Linked DNA regions of Homo sapiens. The protein of the gene in region 2 interacts with the protein of the main gene of each other region in a biochemical or structural test. Each region holds a gene or a part of one and is shown on either strand. Other genes may lie near its edges.

Region 1 (7,000 bases), on a different chromosome or scaffold from region 2:
ACTATGTGTGTTTTATTCTGTATCCTGCCTGGTTTTCCATTTATGAGACTCTGTAGAAAGGATGCTTGATAAAGGCTTTTCTGGAAGGAAGGAAGGAAGAGGGAGGGAGGGAGGGAAGGAGGGAGGGACAGAACCCTGTAGATCTCTGGGTGTAAAGGACACAGGAGGCACACTGTTGGAATAAGTGAGCCAGCCCAATTCCATAGAAAGAAAGAAGAGCTCAGAAAAGCCCAAACATCATATCCAGGAATTAGCCAAGATGGGTTGGCTACTCAACTACAATGTGATTGTCCGCACCAGTCTTCCCGACTTTCCTGCCAGTGCCGCAAGTAACAGGCATCAGTAACTGCATGATGTGTGTAGCTGTTGGACATTGAGTAGCCTTTTGTGTGCACAGTGCTTGGAGATGGCTGTTTTTCCAGTGGAGCAATGTGCAGTGCTGTGAGCTGTAAAGTTGTCTAAAGCAAGTGTGTCTTGGTGCCCTTGGCTGGGTGAACATTCCTAGAAATGCCAGGGGCCAGCCTGAGTGCACGGGACCCAGTGATTCCTATACTTGCTTCTTTCATGCAGAGGTGTTCTGAGGCTCACCTGTGCTTTTAGAAGCACAAAGGGGCTTCGAGTGACCAATCAGATGTGCCTGCTGCAGGTCCACTCGTCTCTAAATGCTCTGACCTATGGACTGTTGTCCATAGTTGAGAAGAAGCTAGAGTAAAATAAAATGTATGAGTGAGTGAATCTTTTTCTTTTTTTTTTTCTTTTCTCTTTTTGAGACAGGGTGTTGCTCTGTTGCCCAGGCTGGAAGGCAGGGGCCCGAGCTCAGCTCACTGTAGCCTCAACCTCCCAGGTTGAAGAGATCCTCCTGCCTCAGCCCCAGGAGTACTGGGACTACAGGTACACACTGCCATGCCCAGCTTATTCTTTGTATTGACGGGATCTCGCCGTGTTGCCCAGGATGGTCTCGACCTCCTGAGCTCAAGTGATTCATCCCGCCTTGGCCTCCCAGGGTGCTGGGATTGCAGATATGGGACACCATGCCCAGCCGAGGAAGTGTGAATTTCTGATCTTGGGCTAGCTTACCACAGTACTAATTAAACTATTCAGTTCAGGGGATTAGTTAATTGTTGTTATTTCAGTTTTGGTTTTTCACTTATCTTAAAAGCCTCTCAAATAGATTAGAGGCCCCAGAGCTTGTGTTACACCTCTATCCATCTCTCAACTCATCTGGTAGGCATTTATGAAGCGCTGGTACTCTTCCCTCTGCACCTATCTTCTGTGCTGGGCAAGTACTGTGCCACCTGCAGGGCCATAGCTGTGATTTAGGTTCATTACAGAGTTCTTGAGATGTCTGCAGGGATTCTGGAATTTGATGTGACTCGGCCACTGGGTGGAGGGAACACCAGTAATCAATACTGTATTGTCCACCAGCTGAGAGGCCAGGCTGTGGTCGTTGGTTTTGTTTTTTTGTTTGTTTGGTTTTTGTTTTGTTTTGTTTTGTTTTTTGTTTTTGTTTTGTTTTGTTTTTGAGACGGAATTTCACTCTTGTTGCCCAGGCTGGAGTGCAGTGGTGCAATCTCGGCTCACCACAACCTCCACCTCCCAGGTTCAAGTGAGTCTCCTGCCTCAGCCTCCTGAGTAGCTGGGATTACAGACATGAGCCACCACATGCCCGGCTAATTTTGTGTTTTTAGTAGAGGCGGGGTTTCTCCATGTTGGTCAGGCTGGTCTCAAACTCCCGACCTCGGGTGATCTGCCCGCCTCTGCCTCCCAGAGTGCTGGGATTACAGGCATGATCCACTGCCCCAGGCCTTTTTTTTTTTTTTTTTTTTTTTTTAATTAAAGACAGTTTCACTATTGTCGCCTAGGCTGGAGTACAATGGATCTCAGCTCACTGCAGCCTCCACCTCCCGGGCTCAAGTGATTCTCCTGCCTCAGCATCCCAAGTAGCTGGGATTACAGGTGCCCACCACCACACCCGGCTAATTTTTGTAGTTTTAGTAGAGACAGGGTTTCACCATGTTGGCCAGGCTGGTCTCAAACTCCCGACCTCAGGTTTTCTGCCCGCCTCTGCCTCCCAAAATGCTGGGATTGCAGGCATGAGCCACCGGGCCTGTGCTTTTCTTTTTTTCTTTTTGAGACAGTTTCGCTATTGTTGTCTAGGCTGGAGTGCAATGGCGTGACCTCGGCTCACTGCCCCCTCCACCTCCTGGGTTCAAGTGATTCTCCTGCTTCAGCCTCCCAAGTAGTTGGGACTACAGCCACGCGCCACCACACCCAGCTAATTTTTGTAGTTTTAGTAGAGACAGGGTTTCACCATGTTGGTCAGGCTGGTCTCGAACTCCTGACCTCGAGTGATCCGCCCATCTCGGCCTCCCAAAGTGCTGAGATTCCAGGTGTGAGCCACCGCGCCCAGCCTGTGGTGTTGTTCTTATACTGAAGACTCATCTGGAAGCTGTTTTTCTCTCATTAAAAGCGGGGACAGTCAGAATTGTTACCAGTGAGGAAACACTCTGGCGACCCTGTTCTTATGCACCCCAGTAGTTGTGTGTGTATCACCTGCTGCTTGCCAGCAGCCCCTGGGCTCAGTGCTCAGGACAGGCCTCAGTTTGGTACCATCCACAGGCAAGCTGGGTATGACTCACAAGAGACCATAAAGACTCAGTACGCGCACTGTCATGGCTGGGGCACTGGGAGTGTCATACCCTTTCCAGGTGTCCACACCTAATTAGTGGGTCATCTTGGCAGAGGGTGGGGGCATGTTGGAGCTGTAGAAAGCTGGGGTCATTTCTAGCCACAGAAGAATTTGCTTTTGCTCCCAGCTAAACCCAAGGCTTTCCCCAAGGGCCAGCACTGTTACCAGAGCCTCCTTTTCTAGATTTCATGCGGACAGTACATTGTGCCGGCCCTGGTAAGTTTGGTCCTGATGGTGAGGTTGACTGATTGTCCCCAGATTTCCCTTTTCACCGTCTGCAGTCTCCTCTAAGAGGAAAGGGGAGCACGTTTCAGTGGCTCCACGTATGTGGATTATATTCTCATCCTCAAATCAAAGACCTTTATACTCAGTCCTGCATTCTTCCTGCATGGCCGTTTGTGTATGTCAGGATGCCATTTGGGAAACAAAATCCACTCTAATTATTCCTAAGCTTAGTGGATTTTAACATGGAAGGAGAAGCCTAAATCAGCAGTGTCTGGGCTGGGTCTCCAGGAATAACTCTTGACCTCGAAGCATTGACCCACCTAGGGAGCTGCTGTGTCTGCTCCATGAAGAAGGTCTGGAGGCGGCATCCACCCCCTGCACTCATATCTTTGGGTTCGTGTAGACAGTACTGCAGACCCTTTCTAGGGAGGAGAGGCCTGGGCTCAAGACATAGCAGCCTCTGCCAGAAGTGTTTCTTCAGGATGCAGCTGTGCCTGCCAGTGCCAACACCCTCAGCAGCTCAAATCGGCCTCCATCCCCTGCCCTGCCAGTAGCATGAGTGTGTCTGTTTGAGGGAACTCGGTTCACGTCTAGGATCCTGGCTGCACGGGAGTCAGAGTAGAGGATTAGAGCTTCTTGTCACTGTAGGGCAGGATGTCCTGCCCAGGGGACAGGCAGGGTGAGGTGAGCAGTAGGGCTTTGGTGGTGAGAACTTTCCTGAAACAGCCCCTCCTACGTGCTCAGCAAGAGGGAAAGGGCGTTCCACTGGCCCCCCTAGATGGGTAAGAGCACTTGGCCAGAAGGTGGGAGGAACCACGTTTGAAACTGTTGGAGCAGAAATTGTCTAGATGTAAGTTCTGAGCTGGCAGGTGAGAGGCTTGTCAGGTTCTTAGGCCCCCAGGACAGAGAATTGGATTGTGTTCAATCCTTGGTGTGTGTCACACGCATTGGTCATGCATAGCCTGCTTTTCTCTGTTAGTTACTTGTAACAACCTACTGAGCAATGCAAATCCTCCTCCACATGAAGGCTCCACCTTGGCAGTGGCCTACATTGGTCGCGTCAGCTTGAGAGAGCATCATGCCCCTAGTGCTGTCTAAATGTTCACTGCCTCACGTAACCCTCACAACAGCACAGTCAGATGTGGGCTCTGGTGACTCTGCTTCAGAAGAGAAAGCTGCAGCCCCCAGATAGTAAGTAAGGTCCCCAGGTCTTGCAGTCAGCACATGGTGTGGCTGTGGCAGCCCCCAGATAGTAAGGAAGGTCCCCAGGTCTTGCAGTCAGCACATGGTGTGGCTGTGGCAGCCCCCAGATAGTAAGGAAGGTCCCCAGGTCTTGCAGTCAGCACATGGTGTGGCTGTGGCAGCCCCCAGATAGTAAGGAAGGTCCCCAGGTCTTGCAGTCAGCACATGGTGTGGCTGTGGCAGCCCCCAGATAGTAAGGAAGGTCCCCAGGTCTTGCAGTCAGCACATGGTGTGGCTGTGGCAGCCCCCAGATAGTAAGGAAGGTCCCCAGGTCTTGCAGTCAGCACATGGTGTGGCTGTGGCAGCCCCCAGATAGTAAGGAAGGTCCCCAGGTCTTGCAGTCAGCACATGGTGTGGCTGTGGCAGCCCCCAGATAGTAAGGAAGGTCCCCAGGTCTTGCAGTCAGCACATGGTGTGGCTGTGGCTGTGTTCACGCTCCAGGAGACTCCACTAAACACCCAGCAGGGAGAGACACAGCACATCAGCTGGGAGGTGGAGTGACTTGGGAAGTGGGCTTGACTGACTGGGAGAGGTGCACAGATCCTCTGTGGGTGGGAGGAGGGTGGGGCCTCTGCTGCTCACCAGAGGGTTCCACAGAGGGTGTCACACGTCAGAAAAAAGAAATGGCTTCGTTTATCACTTATATCAAACTGATTGCTTCTTTCTCTTTTGTTTTTCTCCTTCTGTTTACAAGATTGTTGACGGTGAGTGGTTTCGTTTCCTTTTTCACTGGGTTTGGAGAGGAAACTGGCATAGGTGAGAGCCGCGGTGCTGCAGGTCTTGCCAGACCATCCCCAAGGGCTTGGAGCGCTCCAAGCAGGAAGATGCCTTCGCAGATGCTGTGGTCAGACCCACACAGCCAGTCCCCCTTGTGCCTGCTGAAGAAACTTCACCACTATCATTGAGCACTGAGCTATAGTCCTTTCTTGTGGCCTACCAGATTTTGGAGAAGGCTGGTAGCTCACAGCAGGGGTTGGGGGGTTTCTCCTGGGAAGATAAGATAGTGGCCTCCAGAGCTGGGCAGAACCTTCTGGGTTATAGCTGAGCATGGCAGCAGTTTGTCTCTGGGGGTCCCAGGCAGGGAAGGAAGAGGGTCTTAAGAGGCGTCAGGATGGGAGTGGTGAGGATGGTAAGAGTAGAGAGCCTCCAACCTGAAAATGTGACCTCTTACCTTAGAAAGAAGAAGACCAAGGAGGAATGCTAGGAGGCTGCCCCAGGACCATGCTGACAGCTGTGTGGTGAGCAGTGACGATGAGGAGTTGTCCAGGGACAGAGACGTATATGTGACTACCCATACTCCCAGAAACGCCAGGGATGAGGGCGCTACAGGCCTCAGGTACCAACGTGCCCCCAGCTCTGCTGCCGCCATGCTAGGATGTGGGGCCAGGGCATGGGAATACTTTTCAGCAAATCTGTGAGCCCTTGGCCCTGGAAGGGCTTGCCCAAGCCTCTACCCAGCATCTGGATACAGTTGGAACTGGGTCCAGAACTGAGTCCAGCTATTCCCACTGTAACCAGAGGATGCCAAGCGCTGACACAGTGTGTGCAGACAGTCCCAGTGGCCCCAGACAGGGATCCTGGGGCTGGTAGGGGCCTGGGGGAGGGCAGGGTGACTCAGGTTGTGTGCACCTTCTCATGTTCACCCTCCCACATGCCCTTGGGGCAGTTGGCTTTCCTGAAAGTCTCTCGGATGCCCGCGCTAAGGCAGAGTCAGGAGGCCAGGGACGGGACTCTTGTAGGGGATAGGGGCCACTCACGTGACAGGGTATAATAAAATGTTTGCGTTGACTGAGAAACTAACGTGAAGCACTGTGCTCTTAGGCCCTCAGGTACTGTCAGTTGTCCCATCTGCATGGACGGATACTCAGAGGTAAGTAAACCAAGCTGTATCTTCCAGGCTTCTGGTTTCTAAACTTCACTGAAAGAATTGGATGAGACAGGATCTTCCCCCTCGGTGGGATTGGACACCCCTACTCACAGTCATGCCTGGGCCGTCACTTATTGCAGATCTGCCTGTGAGGGGAGAATGTGCCAGTTTCTCCTTGGACCCTACAACTTTCACCTTCAGCCCCTATACTCCTGTATGCCCTGAGCTTCCGGGTGCAAATGCGTCCTCCTTTTTTGTGCCCCATCCTGGCTCTAACTGAAAGCTGCTAGTGTTTACTGGGGTCCCTCATAACCCTCTTGGGCTGTCACACTGTTGAGATGCCATGGCCCCTGCCTCCTGCTCTCCAGCTGAGAGAGACCACAGCAGACACAGTTAGCTCTCCAGACCCCTCCCTGTTGTAGCCTGGCCCTTGCTTTCCTTTAATTAGTCATCTTAGGCATAGGTGGGTGGGATTCTCTGGCCCCATGGCTGCTCTGGGACAAGGGCAAACTCGGAGGCTCTTCTTTTTAATGCCTTCTAGATCGTGCAGAATGGACGTCTCATCGTTTCCACAGAATGCGGCCATGTCTTCTGTAGCCAGTGCCTCCGTGATTCCCTGAAGAATGCTAATACTTGCCCAACTTGTAGGAAAAAGATCAACCACAAACGGTACCACCCCATTTATATATGAAGTATTCAGAGCCCCCCAGGAGAGACGGATGGACAGACAGACAGCCAGGTTCTCCAGTGGTATCTGCCTCCATTTTCCTGAGATCAAAAAGACTGTTTCGAAACCAACATCTGATATGTAAACTGCTCTTTTGTTTCCAACCCCTTCCTTTTGTTATCTCCAGTTTGATGCTATGGCGCTGGACCCAGGGCCCTCCCAGGCCATCTCTGTTCCTCTGGGGTGGTCCAGTTCTAGAGTGGGAGAAAGGGAGTCAGGCGCATTGGGAATCGTGGTTCCAGTCTGGTTG
Region 2 (7,518 bases):
GAGAGTGAACTGTTTTTAAAAATGAACCTCCTGCTATAGAGCTTGCCTATTTTTTTTTTTTTTTTACAAAAATAAATAAAATGAACCTCCAATCATGGTCAGTTGCAGCATATTAACCACCACCACCACCCCCCAAACAACAACAACAACGCACACACACCCCTCGAAAAGATAAAATGAATCTCCAGCTGTTTGACAGCCAGCCACAAGGCAGCCTTCTCAGGACAGCAAGCCCCCGGCTTCTGTGCTGTCCAGGGTGCCTCGGGCTGTAGCAACAGCTTTGGAAACACTTTACCTTTGACACTGTGCTTGCCCTTGGGTAACTTGCTGATATGTGAAGCGTGCTTCAGTTCATACCTATTCAAAAGAGGACAGTCTCAGAAGAGGCCTTCACACTGGGCTCTCGAAACCAACAGTTTGATTAGGAGAATAAGATCAGATACAGAGATGAGATAAAAGTCCACAAAACCCAGACCATCTAAACTGCTCAGGCTCCCTCCTGAGTTTCTGGAACTGTTCCAGAACCTGAAACTGCAGTTGCGGCTGAACATAGTTTGTGCCCAGCGATCACTGCTATGGGGCCATTTTCAAGGCAAGGCCCTATTTGGAGTGGTGGTCAGCAGCTCTAGGTTTCCGTCCACATTCCACAGTCCCCAGACCCCTGGCCTTTTACATGACCTTGTGCTTTTGGTTACAGTTCACAGGACTAGGGTCGATGTCCAAATCAAGCTGGACTAATCAGATCTTTCTCTATGGAGAATCTGGAAGTGGAATTAAAATTCCAGTTCCATTTGGGTTGGTCTAAGAAAACTGAAACACTGGTGAGTGGAGGAGGCGGCCTGGGGGATCATCCTTTGTGCAACTCAATCTCTCTGCTTCCCAGTCCATGGAGAGAAGACACTGCCAGCTCTGGAGGCCTGGCTGCGTTCCTGCCCTTGCATTTCCTGAAGTATCCTTGTATCTCCCTTGTTCCCTTAACTTGAATTGGATTCTGCTACTTATAAGAAAAGAATCCTAATTGGTGCGTCCAGTAACTGCAGTGGGGAATTTCTACTCTCCCAGCCAAGGGGAGTTCTGCCTATAGCCCATTCCACCTGTCCCCATGAAATGCCATCAGTCCCAGAGCCAGGTTTACTCACATGTTTCCAAGGGCAACTTCTCCCAACAGGATTAAGCCTATTGGGTCTCCCTGAGACGTATGGCAGTAGTTGGCACTCTTGGAGACCATGTCAGCGAAATAGATCCCTTTACCAAACATGTAGCCTGTCTGGAAGGTCGGAAAAGGGAGAGCTGAGAATCTTCTGATGGGAAATTAGGAGCAGCTGTTCACTGAGTGCCAACTTGAGCAAGCCACCCAGCTAAGTGCTGCAATCCATCACTTCTAATTCTCACAATGCCCATGGTGAGGAAATACCAAAGTTTTAGCTCACAAGCCAGGCTGTCAGATCCTAGCTCTGCCAGGTGCCAAGGAGCTGCAAGAAGCTACGTAACCTCTCTGGACTCTACTTGCCTCTTTTCTCAAATGGGGAACACAGTCTCATGGAGCTGCCATGAGGACGGAATGAGCTCATCAGTGTTACTTAAACTAGCGCCTGTCAACACCCAAGGAATGCAGGCTGGTATTTTTATTCCCTTTTGTAAATGAAACACGAGGTTCACAAAGGGTAGGCCATTTGCCCGTTATACACTACTGCACAGCCCCAGAGAGAATCATTTAAACTTCTCTCCTCCTCATTCTACAACTGTGAAACAAGAGGCTTAGAAGGTCCTGTCCAGGTGGACCCATCTAGAATCCAGCAGGTGGCATCACGATCCCTCGTGTCTAGGTAAAGCCTTACTCATTCATCGCTACGTTTTCCTGCTGAAGACACTGACACTCAGAGGTGGCCCGGCTGGGAAGTGGTAGAGATAAGCCTGGACTCAGCTTGGCCTGTAGCCACGTGTCTGTTCTTTGCTTGTCAACACACCCGATTAGCATCTGCAGCAGGCCCTGGCCTGGATGCTCTGCCTCCTTTGTTCCAGAAACTGTGTTTGAAACCCCTGACAGGGTTAGGGTCAGGAGGATAAAAGGGTGAAGGCCCAAAGAAAGGATGTCTGGCAGAATCCCCCTAAACCAACTAGACCTCTTGCTCAAAGTTCTTTATGGAGACACCTGCAGAGACAGGCATTGCCCACCCCTCGCCAGGCCAGGCACATACCACGGGCGCTTCAGGCGGGGCTATCCGAAGACCCTGGGACAGGATCCCAGCAAAGTTGGTGGTCCTGGACCCGTGCCACAGCAATCTTCGGTTATGAAGCTGCTTAAAGGGCTTGTAACGCTGGCATTCGCCTTCACGCTCTATCTTAAAGATCTGGTTGGAGTAGTAAACAAAGGGAAGGACAAAAGAAGCCATTTGTTACTCTGGTTGACTGAAAGACAGGACTGGATACACGAGAAATGACCGGCTGTCCCTAAGGCTAGAAGACTTAAGGTCTGCTGCAATGTAAAAAGTGTTTTCCACAAGGCTGGGATGGAAGGTCCAGGTCCTGCCCAGCAGCGCCCAGCCATTGCTGGTTAGTATTACTGTGCAGCAGATGTGCACTTGAGGAACTTTATCTTGGACATCTGATAATCTATGTTCTGAGACCAGGTTTGGGGACAGGAAATGTCCTTTAAAACAGAATAAAAAGCCATCCCCAAACTACTGTATAAGACTGCTAATTTTATAATCCCAGCACTTTGGGAGGCCAACGCAGGCGGATCATCTGAGGTCAGGAGTTCAAGACCAGCCTGGCCAACATAGTGAATCCCTATCTCTACTAAAAATACAAAAATTAGCAGAGTGTGGTGGCTCACGCCTGTAATCCCAGCTACTCTGGAGGCTGAGACAGGAGAATCACTTGAACCCAGGAGGCAGAGGCTGCAGCAGGCCGGGATTGCACCACTGCACTCCAGCCTGGGTGATAGAGTGAGACTCCATGTCAAAAAAAAAAACAAAAAACAAACAAACAAAAAAAAAACTACTAATTTTTCTGCTGAACAAATGAGTCACTTCTTTGGGTTATTTAAAGTAAATAAACTGCTCTTTTCTACCCAGGCCCAGGTTGGAGGAGTGGGCAGGGAAGAGCTGGCAGGACACAGAAGGAAGTGGGGGAAGAAGGGATTCTTACATCGATGACTTCCAAGTCATACGCATTGTGTGTGGTTGCATGAGTGTTCTTAACATACTTCCTGATGATCTCGGCTTCTTCAGAATCTCTGTCAACCACCTGGATAAACAGAATCTTGGGATTAGCACAAAAGAGACCCAGGAGAGCTACAGAGGAGGAATGCTCAGGCTCAGTCAATGCATAGCTCAACACCACACTCCTCAAAGGAAGCCGGGCATGACCGAGAGCCTGTGTCCCAGGCCTGTGGGCTGGGCAGATCCTGGGCCAGTGGCTCCACTTACCTAAGCCTCCACCTCTTCATCTACTTGGGCTGCTAGAGAATCTCAGGGTTCCTTTTTGTCTTAAAATTCTATGTTTTGGGATATCAGGGAAGCTAGAATGTGGGATTCACTGTCAGTGAACAGGGCATCTCCAGAACAAGCAATTGGCTCCTGGAAGAGAGTCCAGCTCAGCATGAGTTAAAACACAATGGGCCAGAGGAAGTCACAGCTATGATGTGCAATGAAAATTATCCCTGGCTCAGAGCACAGGCCTAACAAGCATCTGTCAAATAGCTGATGTAATCTATGCTCAGTAAGCCTGAGTATTACGGAGGAGACTAGTTATGTTTTATTTTCATATTTATATTCAAACTTCAGAAAACCTAGAATGCTGGTCTACCTCCCTGTCTTTTAATTAAAAGGCTTCAGAATTGTAAAAAGAGAATAAGAATCCCTTCACGAAGAACCACACCTACAGTTTTCCCATCAGGAAGGTGCTCTAGGGGCAAAACAAATGACATGTGGTGTCTTACCCTGCTTGGACCCATAGGTCTATACTTTGTCCTAGGAAAGAAGCCAAGGCTCTTTCTTTAGCGATGTAAACACCTGGTACCAGACTCAACATACTCTCGCCCACCCAAACCCCTGCAACACTGCAGGGAATGGGCTGAGGACAATGGGGCACATGAGTGTGGAGATAGGCTCAAGGACCGGGCCATCTAGAAGCTGAGGCAAAAATCCCTCCTCTAGTTGGTCTAAGCGGGGTGTTCAGAGACTGTGTGTGCCAACACAGTCCACTTCAGCACCAGAGAAAAATGAACGCAAGCATTGTGTTTTTATTACAGGTGCCATCAAGCATTTCCACTTCTGAAATGGACACCGGTAATAAGTCTTCTAAAAGTTCACGCTACAAGGGTTTAGAAAAACAGAGCTCCTCTCTAGATTAAGGAGAGGAAACAAACAAACAAACAAACAAAAAAGAACTTTTGGTAAGACCCTCAAAAATAAATTTGTACGCCAAGCTGAGGTGCTGGCTTGGAAGGCTGCCTTGCAAACAAGGTGCATTATCTACACGTGAAACGCCCAAAGGTTCTCAAAGGACCACCAGCAGCAATGTCCGGGAACTTGTTAGAAAAGTGAATTATTGGGCGCCAGCCACCTGTGTTTTAACAAGCTTTCCAGGAGATCCTAACACACATGGAAGTTTGGGACCGCTGCTCTCAGGATGAGAGGTTAAGATGCTTGAGGAAGGCCTGACCCTGTTACCTTAATGTCAGTTTTGAGCTTCTCATAGTTGACATCGATGGGATCCTTGCTGCTATCATCAGACCCTCCCCTGAGCAGACTGTAGGCCACCTCGATGTCCAGCAGGTTGTCAAGCATTTCCACCTTGGCCTGGAGGAGCAAAAGAAAGCCCCCGACTTAGGTATCATGGTGAATGAGACAGACTCACCCAGGTGGCAGAGAAAACCTACATGCAGAGAAGGTCCAACACAGTGAATGGCAAACCCTCCTGCTGGTCAGGGCCAGCCTGTTACCTGCTGCACATATTGAGAGCTCATAAGGACTTTCTGGAATGTTAACAAGGCCTTGTGGCCTGGGGGAGTTGAGAGGTGGAAGAACTGTCTTTCCTCTCGTACATGCTGACATTTGGGACCTACAGTGAAGGTACTTTAGACAAATGGGTCCTGAGCCAGGAGCTGTCTTAAAAGGCAGGGAGGGAAAATGGGGAGGAAGATGCTGTTATGAGGGAGAGGCTGTCCCTCTCCAACAGCTCTTTCCCCAGTGGATTTGGTAGAACAGGGGCAGGAAAAACAGCTCTGCCTCCATCAATGTGGGTAGAAACCCAACTTCAAAACAAGGGCAAGAGGGTGGCCCTCCCAGCATTGGTGCTGCCCTCAGGGATCATGATGGGGAGGGACGGCTGCAAGGTAGTCACACCCCAGCCCAGCAGACCTGCAGTCCCTTCTGAACCCTTGCGCTACCTGCACACTGTCTGCATTGTTCAGGAGCGGAGGCTTCTTCATCCCAAAGTCGTGGGGGATCAGGGTGTAAAAGCGATTTGAGAGATCCAGGATCTGAGAGTCGCTGCTGCCCTGAGACACCGCCTGGAGAGGAGGGGACAGAAGGAATGCAAGACTGAGGGAGCAGCTCCAAGCCCCCGGCCAGGCTTTCTCTTTTAGCAGGTGGGTGCTGCAGCAGGTCCAGAAGTAGCGTGGTATGTGCACATGCCAGGACACATGGGAAACGACCAGAAGACCATCTTCCTGTTAAAGAGCAGGGCAGGACCCCCATCCTCTAAAAGCACTGCTCAACACGTGATGGGCTTCTCCCATGAAGTTTCATTTGTACAAAGAACTGTGCAGTTACAGACATTTGAAACCCCGCCACAACTATGCAAAATGTTAACTGTAAAATCTAGGTGGTGGGCTAATGACTATTGCTGTAAAATTCCTTCAACTTTTTGTATGTTTGAAACATTTTCATAATAAAATGTTGGGAGGAGGTTGCCCATCGCTATAAAATTCAGTCAGGCTCCCTGCCTCCACTGACCTTCATTGGAATTAGTTTTTACTGTACCTGGAGGTTGAGGTGGCCAGGCACAGAAAGGCTAAGCAATCCTTACACTCACTGCCAGTGTCACTTGGTGCTCTATATGCAAAGGGTGCACAAAAAATGCACAGAGATGGAAGAGCGGGGCCACTGGGATTCCAGGAATTTCGCAGACAGCCTAGGTGACCACAGGAAGGTCAAGGGAATATGAAGTGGCACCCAGCAGGTCCGAAGCCCCACGCCTGCTTCTCGCTGTGACATGGACTTCACCAAGTTGTACAACTTCCATCTGTGCTGCCCAGGTGGCTCTGGCAATGGGTAAGGATGCTATTCCAGCTCTTCTTCCTGAAGACTATTGCATGGGAAGAAGCTGGGGCCGAGGAAAGCCTTGTAAGTTCTCAGTCAGTAAGGAACAAGGAGAGAGGTTCACTGCTCAGAGCCAGCTGTAACTGAAGTTGACAGATCCGGTTCAGCGCCTTTTCTCCAGCACCAGCCAGAAAGCCCGCTGCCTGGGCCCACTTCTGCTTCCTGTGTGCTTTCCTTCTTTCTACAGGCCAGGCCTGCACCCACCCACAAATATAAGCGGAACCCTCCAGCCCCTCCAGGATGTAGCTGGAAGGCTCCGGGACTGGTAGACCTTGAAAGATGCTCAAAGAATGTTGAAATAACATGAATGAAAGAGGCTTCCATTTGATGACTTCCTAGTAACTGCAAAATAAACTCTGCCTAACTCTTAAGGACACATAAAATAAAAACCACAACACAGGTGACCCTTGAACAATCGATTTGAAGTATGCGGGTCCACTTATACACAGATGTTTTCAATAAATACAGTTAGCTCTCTACACCTGTGGGCTCTGCAGTTGAGAATTCAACCAAACTCAGATAAAAAATATAGTATTCTCAGGCCAGGTGTGGTGGCTCATGCCTGTAATCCCAGCACTTTGGGAGGCTGAGGCAGGCGGATCACTTGAACCCAGGAGTTTGAGACCAGTCTGGCCAACATAGTGAAACCCCACCTCTACTAAAAATACAAAAAAATTAGCCGGGTGTGGTGGCCCATGCTTGCAACCCCAGCTACTTGGGAGTCTGAGGCACGAGAACCGCTTGAACCTGGGGATGGAGGTTGCAGTGAGCTGAGATTGTGACACTGCACTCCAGCCTGGGGGACAGAGCAAGACTCTGTCTCAAAAAAGAAAAAGAAAGAAAAATCCCACCAAAAAAAAAAAAAAAAAATCTCAGGATGCGAGACCCACAGATGTGCAGGGCCAACTTTTCTCCTCCATGGGTTCTGCAGGGCACTCTAGGACTTGAGCATGAGTGAATTTTAGTAACCCCGAGGGAGTCCTGGAACCAATCCCCGAGGATACAGAGGGATGACTTCACTTTTAACAGAGAGGGTAACCAACGTCTTCAAGTTTATGGTCAGTTTACTAAGTATCTGACAACTGAAAAATGTTGCTCTTCATTAGTTTTGTGATAAACTTTTGTAAGTAGCAGGCACTTGTCATTTATTGAACTGAAAAAAATCGAAACCCTCGTGAAGTGCAGTTCA
Region 3 (7,000 bases), on a different chromosome or scaffold from region 2:
TGCACTCCAGCACGGGCGACAGTCAGACTCCATCTCAAAAAAAAAAAAAAAAAAAGCTGATCGGATGGGACCATTCCCCCTCCAGCTGGCCCATGTGCTGGCCCCCTCCCCAGGCTGTCCCCTCCCCGGCACATACAAGTTCTCTAACTCCCGGACCCACCCTGTCCAGCTAAGAGCTACCAGCACTGATTCCCCAACCCAGGTCCCCCAGATCAAGAGTAGAGGCAGCACAGTCAGGTATGAGGGACACAGGGGGCACTGTCCTGGAGGGGCGGGGAACAGGTGCCCCTGGCTAGGCACAGGGGTGATGCCGACCACTCTACCCATCAGTGAAAACATTCACAGGCTGCCATGGGAGGGGGACCAGTGGGCAGGAAGCAGAGCAGGAGGCTGCAGCCAGCGGGCAGGTTGGGGAGCTGGGCTGGGCAGGGCAGGGGGCCACAGGGGATGGGAGAAGGACTAGCGGGACATGGGGGTGGCTGCTGGCAGCCCCCCATCTGGTAGCAGTGGGCCCATCCCTCCTCTTCAACCTGAAGGCCAAGACCTGGGGCAGAGCTGGCGGAGTCCCCCTGTTCCCCAACCACAGGTATGGGAAGTGCCAGCGGGCTGAGTGGGTCAGACTACCCCACATGTGGGACAGTGACACAGGACGCTCCGTGCCCATCCAGGCCCCCAGTGTGCAGACGGACAGATGGTGGGCCTGGGCGGGCAGCAGGCCTGGCTGTGGAAGGCAGACGGCCACTTGCCTCCTGCACTTCAGTTTCCTCACTGACCCCAAAAATCATACCAGAACCTCAGGGGCGCTGAAGCCCTCGGGGCAAGCAGGGTAGCCCCCAGCCTTCCCCGGGCCCACCATTCTCGGGTTCCAGCCTCTGCCGCCCGCGCCCAGGCTACTGCGTCCCTCCTCCTGGGCGCACCATGTTCTGGCCACAATGAACTCCATTCAGCCCCATGAATGAGCCCTCTCTGGCCATCGGCCTCTGCCCTCACTGCCCTCTGCCTGGAATACGCTCCCCTGCCCCCTCCTCTCTGCCTGGCTTCTTGAGAGTCACCCTCGGGTCTGGACTGAAACGCTGCTGCCTCCAGGAGGCCTTCCTGACTGCTACCTCCTCACAAATGTAGAGTAAATGGCTCCTGCTACTGACAGCTGCCCCTGAAAGCCCTCCGTGTGCCATGAGACTTATCACCTGGCACTTCTGTGCTGCACCTGAGCAGGGACCACGCTACCTTGCTGTGGCCTGGGCAATGCTGGCCCAAGGGCTTCAGAGGCTGAAGGGCACAGGTGCCTACACACAGCACAGCACATGCCAGACCGGCGGCTCTTGGCTGGTACCAGGGCTATCTGCCTCTGGGGGCATCTGGAGTCGTGGTGACAGGGGCTCCACTCTGCACAGCAGGCGGGTGGGCAGGCAGATTCCTCGGGGTGCCCGCTGCGGGCCAAGACCCTGGAGGAGCAGCTCTGTGCCCGGCCAGCATGTATCCTTCCTTCTGCCCCACATTTCCTGACAGCCTCTCTTCCCAAGTACCCTGACAGGAGGGTCAGGCTCCCTAGCCGGACTCCCCAGGTGGCGCAGGCTGGAAAGGGGTGGCGCCGGCTTCCTTGCCGACAGGCAGGACAGGGTTCCCAGCCTGCAGAGGTCCAGGCCAGAGCCTCTGCTCAGGAGCAGGAGCCAGTCGGCTCGGGAGGAGGGAAGGCAGGCCGCTGTGCGACCTTGGGCCGTTCTCCGCACTGTTCTGGGTGCCAGCCCCGTCCCCACACACGGCACCTCCCACTGGAGCCGATCACCTACAGCCTGAGGCCCCTGCAGCCTGCTCTGTGGCTCTGTCACCCCCTCCCCCAGCCCAGCATTCCGCACCGCGTGATTTATGGCTCCTGTCCGCCTGGCGCGGTCTCCATCCTGGAGCCGGCCGGCGGCTATTCCGGGGAAACAGACCAGAGCGGTGGGCCTCACGCTGGACGGTGGGTCACAGCCAGAGGAGGGAGTGAGGGAGAAGCCGGTGGAACTGGGTCCTCCGGAGGCGGCCCCCGGGCAAGGCCAGCACCACAGAGTGCACCCTGGGGAGGGACACAGCCCAGGGTCAGGGCGGACAGATGGCATCTCAGGTCCTAAAACCATGGGGACCACTGCTTCGGGGCCAGGGGCTATGCTCCAGGAAACTTCTGAGGACCGAGGTGGCCCCCAGGGAGTCCCCCAAGAGCACGGAATCCAGGAAAGGAGGTTCACCTGGCGGCCTGAGATGGAGAGAGAGCCAGTGGGAGAGAGAGGCAGGGTGGGGATGGCCTCTTTGTTCTGAGCCGCCAGCACAGGCACACTGGTGTAGACAGGGGAGCAGGCTCTCCCGGAGATCAGGTGACCGGGGTCCCTGGTGGCTCAGGGCACAGCGATGTATTGTGGGACGGAGCTACTGGTCCCCGTGCAGGAAGGAAGCTGGTCAGCCCCGTCCCCCGCCCTGGACCAAGCCTGCCCTGCCGCTCCCAGGAAAGCCCAGCCTCCCTGTGATGCAGGTCCTTCCCAAGGCCCAACCTTCAGAGACAGCCAGCTCTGCCCAAGAACCTGGCAGGGGGAACAGCTTCCCTCATGAGAGAGCAAAGGCTGGGAAAGTCAGTCCGATGGAACTCAGGCCAAGACCCTGAGTCCCCCAGGACAGGTGCCACTGGGCCAACCTGCTCCCCAGGAGGCTGCTGCTAGACACCTCCTGCAAGAGAAAAAAGGTGGAGGCGGAGCCTCACTTGGAAGGCGGAGCCTCAGGCTGGAGGGAGGAGCCTCGGCTGCCGCAGGAACCACCGACAGCACCTTCCTCCCTCCTCCACTTCCTCCATCCTCACCTGGAAGCACAGCCCCTCCAGCCTAACCTCACTAAGTCCCAGGGCTGCAGATGGGAGGGGAAAAGCAGCCAGTTCCCCTTCCCCCTACCCCCATCAACGCTGCCTCCCTGGGCAGGGGAGCGGGGGCCAGCTGGCACCCAATGGACTGAAGCGTGCCAGAGAAGGGCCCTCAGGCCACAGCAGGGGCCAGGCAGGTTGCTGGGTCAGCAGGGTGGGAGGGGGCATGCACAGGGTTCTGAACCTCGTGGCCTTGGTCCTGTTCCCTGCTGCGTGCCCACGCCTGGTGCCCATCACGCACCCACCCAGCAGGCGCTCCGATGTTTACTGTGCGAAGGAAAGAGTGGGGGCAGGGGAGGGGAGGCAGGAAGAAGAGACGGAGAGACCTCCAGGCACACAGAGGACTTGGTGAAATCTGAGCGCCTCAAGGCACAGGTCCGCAAAGGCCCAGGACGTTCCGCTCCCTATCTGGGAGTCCCAGAGGCTGCACACTCTCTCTGCCCTGGGGGCTGGGGCTGCGGAGGCCTCCCTGGCCCTGAGCTCAGGGCTATGGCTGAGGCAGAGACTGGGCTCAATGCCCACCTGCAGCCTGAATGGCCACGGCTGCTGGGGAGGCACCAGGGGCCTGTCCACACTGCTGTGGGCTATGAGGTCCTGACACACAGTTCCTGCTCAGTCAGTGCTTGCAGACAAAGACACGAGAGAGAGAAGCGTGGAGCCCAGCACCTCTCCTCCGCCTGGGATCGCCCTGAACCCCCAGCACGCCCGGTGCACACAGCCTGGCAGTGACCTGAGCCCACTGACCAAGGACACTCCTGCAGGCTGCCAGCGAGGAACCAGAGCCCGGGGGAAGGATGCCACTGGCCAGCCCCCTTTCCAAGGGGAATAAGCAGGGAAACCAGGCTCCCAGGTGGCCCTGGTCACCCCTGGCCCTGGCAGTCACAGCCTGGTGTGGTCCCTGCATGCGCCACAGAGTCTGTGTGAGCAACGGACTCTGTGGGGGAGATGGCGAGGCGTGTCCGAGGTTGGGTTATAAAAAGGGCTCCAGCTCCCAGCTTGGAGGTGCACACTCGCTACCCTAGGGTGAGGGAGCCACCAGGCTGAGGACGCCCAGGCAATCCGTGCAGGAGTCCGCACCATGAGGACCTGGGGACTGTGGCCAAGAGCTGGCGAGGAGCTGAGGCCTGCCAGCCACCACACAAGGATGTGCCTGCTCCAGCCCTGGTCGAGCCTCCAGATGAGGTGGCTCCAGCCTGACTGAGCCTCATGAGAGCCCCCAAGCCCCAATGCCCCGCAACACAGCTCACAGGTTCCTGAGAGCTAACAGACGCCCCCTGCTTCCAGTGGCTCCATTTCGGGGTAACTTGTAACACAGCAAGGGGTGACCAATATCAAAGATGGTCCCTTTGCTTCCGAGGAAGGACACCCCTGGCCACTGTGGCTCCCCGCCCTGGCTGCGCCACAGAGAACATCACTCGAAGTCGGCTGTGTGGCTGGGCTGGGCTGGGCGACGGGGCCTAGGTGAAGCCTCCAGTCGCAGCCTCCCCAGGGTGACCACTCACCTAATTCGGTGGGCTTCAGCAGCTCATCCAGCATATTAAAGAACGGCAGCTTCACCAGGCGGACTTCTGGCTTGAGGGTCTTGGCGGGCAACCGTCCCAGTCCGTTTAAGTACTTTCCGTAGAGCACGGGGTAGTCAATATTGGGGCCTGCCAGCGGAGTCCTGGGCACAGCGCCGGCCCGGTCGTAGGTGGAGTGCATGGTCAGGGGGTCCAGGGGCCGGTGCGGCTGTGGGGCAGGCTCCGAGTTCTTCTTGGCGTAGCGGGTCTCGTACAGCTCCTTGATCTTCTTGAACAGCTCAGGGCTACAGTCAAACTGCACCAGCTGGAGGGCCCTGGTGACGAGCTCGTGCTTCAGTCCACTCTTACTCCGGCCCACGAAACCCAGGAGCATCTGAAGGTCGGAGACTCGAAAACTCATCACCATGTTCTGAGGAGGAGCAAGCACACACACACTCAGAGGACACAGCTGCGAGGCAGGGGACTCCATGGAGGCCAGGCCCCGATGTGGGGGCCGTGAAAGACACCCACTCGCCAGGAAGCGCCAGCCTTGGCTGGGGCTGGTGGAGTGCCCTGCCCCTACGGTGCCCCCTCCCAGCAAAGCCCTGCCCCCTCCCTCCTCCTCATCAAACTTTCCCCAGCATCGCCAACGCAGCAAAAGCGCCTCTGACTAGGCCCCCCCTTCTATTTTAGGTTCTCTTTCCCTGTCTTCAGCCTGAAAGCATCCCCAGGGCAGGAACTGACAATTGTGCTTTACTTGTAAACAGCCTCTGCCAGTGCCTTACCGGCAAACACCAAATGCCTCTCTGACCCTCAGTCTCTACGTCGGGAGGATAATGACATAAAGCACTGGCTGGGCGGGCGCTCAACCCATGTCAGCCACAGATATGTTTTCCCTTCGGTCTCGCCAACGGTAGCCACAGTTTACTTAGTACTAATCACCTGCCGGGAACCAAGCCGGTCATGTGATTATATATTTAACTCTGATCCTTAAAACACCCCTGCTAGGCTGGTGTGTGAGCTCTGTCACAAATGAGGAACTGTCGGCTCAGAGGTGGCAGCGCCAAGATTCGAACCCAGGCCTGGCTCTGAAGCCAGGGGCGGTTCTTGCTGCCACACTACCCTCTGGATGTCAACACAGGGCTGGGCCTGTGGGGGCCTCCGAAACATCTGCTGATCATCCCAGGCAGGGTTTCTCCTCCTTGGCCCTGTGGACACTGGGGCCATCCTGGGCTCTGTGTGGTGCTAAATACCCACAGCTCACGACAACCAAACACACCTCCACACCCCACACACCTCCACACCCCACACACCTCCACACCCCACACACCTCCACACCCCACACACCTCCACACCCCACACACCTCCACACCCCACACACCTCCACACCCCACACACCTCCACACCCCACACACCTCCACACCCCACACACCTCCACACCCCACACACCTCCACACCCCCCACACCTCCACACCCCACAGCTCCACACCAAACACACCTCCACACCCCACACACCTCCACACCCCACACACCTCCACACCCCACACACCTCCACACCCCACACACCTCCACACCCCACACACCTCCACACCCCACACACCTCCACACCCCACACACCTCCACACCCCACACACCTCCACACCCCACACACCTCCACACCCCACACACCTCCACACCCCCCACACCTCCACACCAAACACACCTCCACACCAAACACACCTCCACACGTTGCCCTGAGTCCCTGGGGGACCGGTCCAAGGGGAAGATAGCAGCCACAGGGGCTGTTGCAGGACCTGGGTCAAAGCGACAAATGAGGCTTGGCAGGACCTGGCCCTCATCGCCTGGCCGGGCCTCTCCAGCGAAATAAAAACCAAACAGCAGAGCCCAGCTGACCCTGGTGTTTGAGGTGGGGTAGACTGGCAGTGGCCTGACCTCCATGAGGGGTAGGACCCTGAAGGGGAAGGAAGGCTCCTCAACAGGCTGCAGAAGCCAGGTGTCCTCGAGGGATGGGCTGGCAGGGTTTCAGGGCCACCCACCCTTAGCCCTGAAGCTGGCCTGGGATGAATGAGATGTGGTGGGAAACAGTAGCTTCCAGGAGGAATGGGGAGAAAGCTCAAGCGTCAAGGGTGTTAAGGAAAGCTGGCGGGTACCCGAAGAAACCAATAAACCATTCAAACTCCACTCGAAAGACCCTGAGGGTCGAAGCCAGAGGCAGTCCCAGTGGGGTATGTAAACTGCAGCCTCCGTGCCAGGAGGCGCTGAGGTTTCCGGCTCCTGGCTGCCCCAGGGTGAGACCAGGAGCCTAGCCGCACATTTCAGCACCAAAGCTGCAGCAGCCGGGGCCCACTGTCGGGTCCTCATCTGTCAGCTCTGATTTCTTCCAGCTGTATCGGGCCAGGGTCCTGTTGGAGACGGAGAGGCTGTCCAGGCTCAAAATGACAGGGACACACGTGCAGGCGGCCCAGCCCTGCCCAAAGAGCCTCGGGAGAAGCCTCTTCCCATATCAGGGCTGCGGGGCCCCGTGACTGTAAAGAATCGGGATGCCAGCGTCTTGCTCCCTACCAGGCACCAGCAAGGCCTGTGTCGCTAATTTCACAATGAGGACACCCATCGTGTA

Evidence for each region. The genes of interacting proteins can lie anywhere in the genome.
Region 1: the proteins of PARP1 (region 2) and RNF4 form a complex in vitro, tested with the Homo sapiens proteins (2 studies listed by BioGRID and IntAct, with this or other methods).
Region 3: of the proteins of PARP1 (region 2) and PIAS4, one has a biochemical effect on the other in vitro, tested with the Homo sapiens proteins (3 studies listed by BioGRID and IntAct, with this or other methods).

What each region holds. Positions count from the first base shown.
Region 1 is NC_000004.12:2,507,106-2,514,105, forward strand, and holds part of RNF4 (E3 ubiquitin-protein ligase RNF4), read left to right. Parts: intron 1-4,850; coding exon 4,851-4,860; intron 4,861-5,332; coding exon 5,333-5,492; intron 5,493-5,977; coding exon 5,978-6,026; intron 6,027-6,564; coding exon 6,565-6,714; 3' UTR 6,715-7,000. UniProt on the Homo sapiens protein: E3 ubiquitin-protein ligase which binds polysumoylated chains covalently attached to proteins and mediates 'Lys-6'-, 'Lys-11'-, 'Lys-48'- and 'Lys-63'-linked polyubiquitination of those substrates and their subsequent targeting to the proteasome for degradation.
Region 2 is NC_000001.11:226,362,804-226,370,321, forward strand, and holds part of PARP1 (poly [ADP-ribose] polymerase 1), read right to left. Parts: intron 5,519-7,518; coding exon 5,396-5,518; intron 4,806-5,395; coding exon 4,677-4,805; intron 3,250-4,676; coding exon 3,151-3,249; intron 2,352-3,150; coding exon 2,199-2,351; intron 1,268-2,198; coding exon 1,140-1,267; intron 358-1,139; coding exon 296-357; intron 1-295. UniProt on the Homo sapiens protein: Poly-ADP-ribosyltransferase that mediates poly-ADP-ribosylation of proteins and plays a key role in DNA repair.
Region 3 is NC_000019.10:4,010,736-4,017,735, reverse strand, and holds part of PIAS4 (E3 SUMO-protein ligase PIAS4), read right to left. Parts: intron 4,814-7,000; coding exon 4,387-4,813; intron 1-4,386.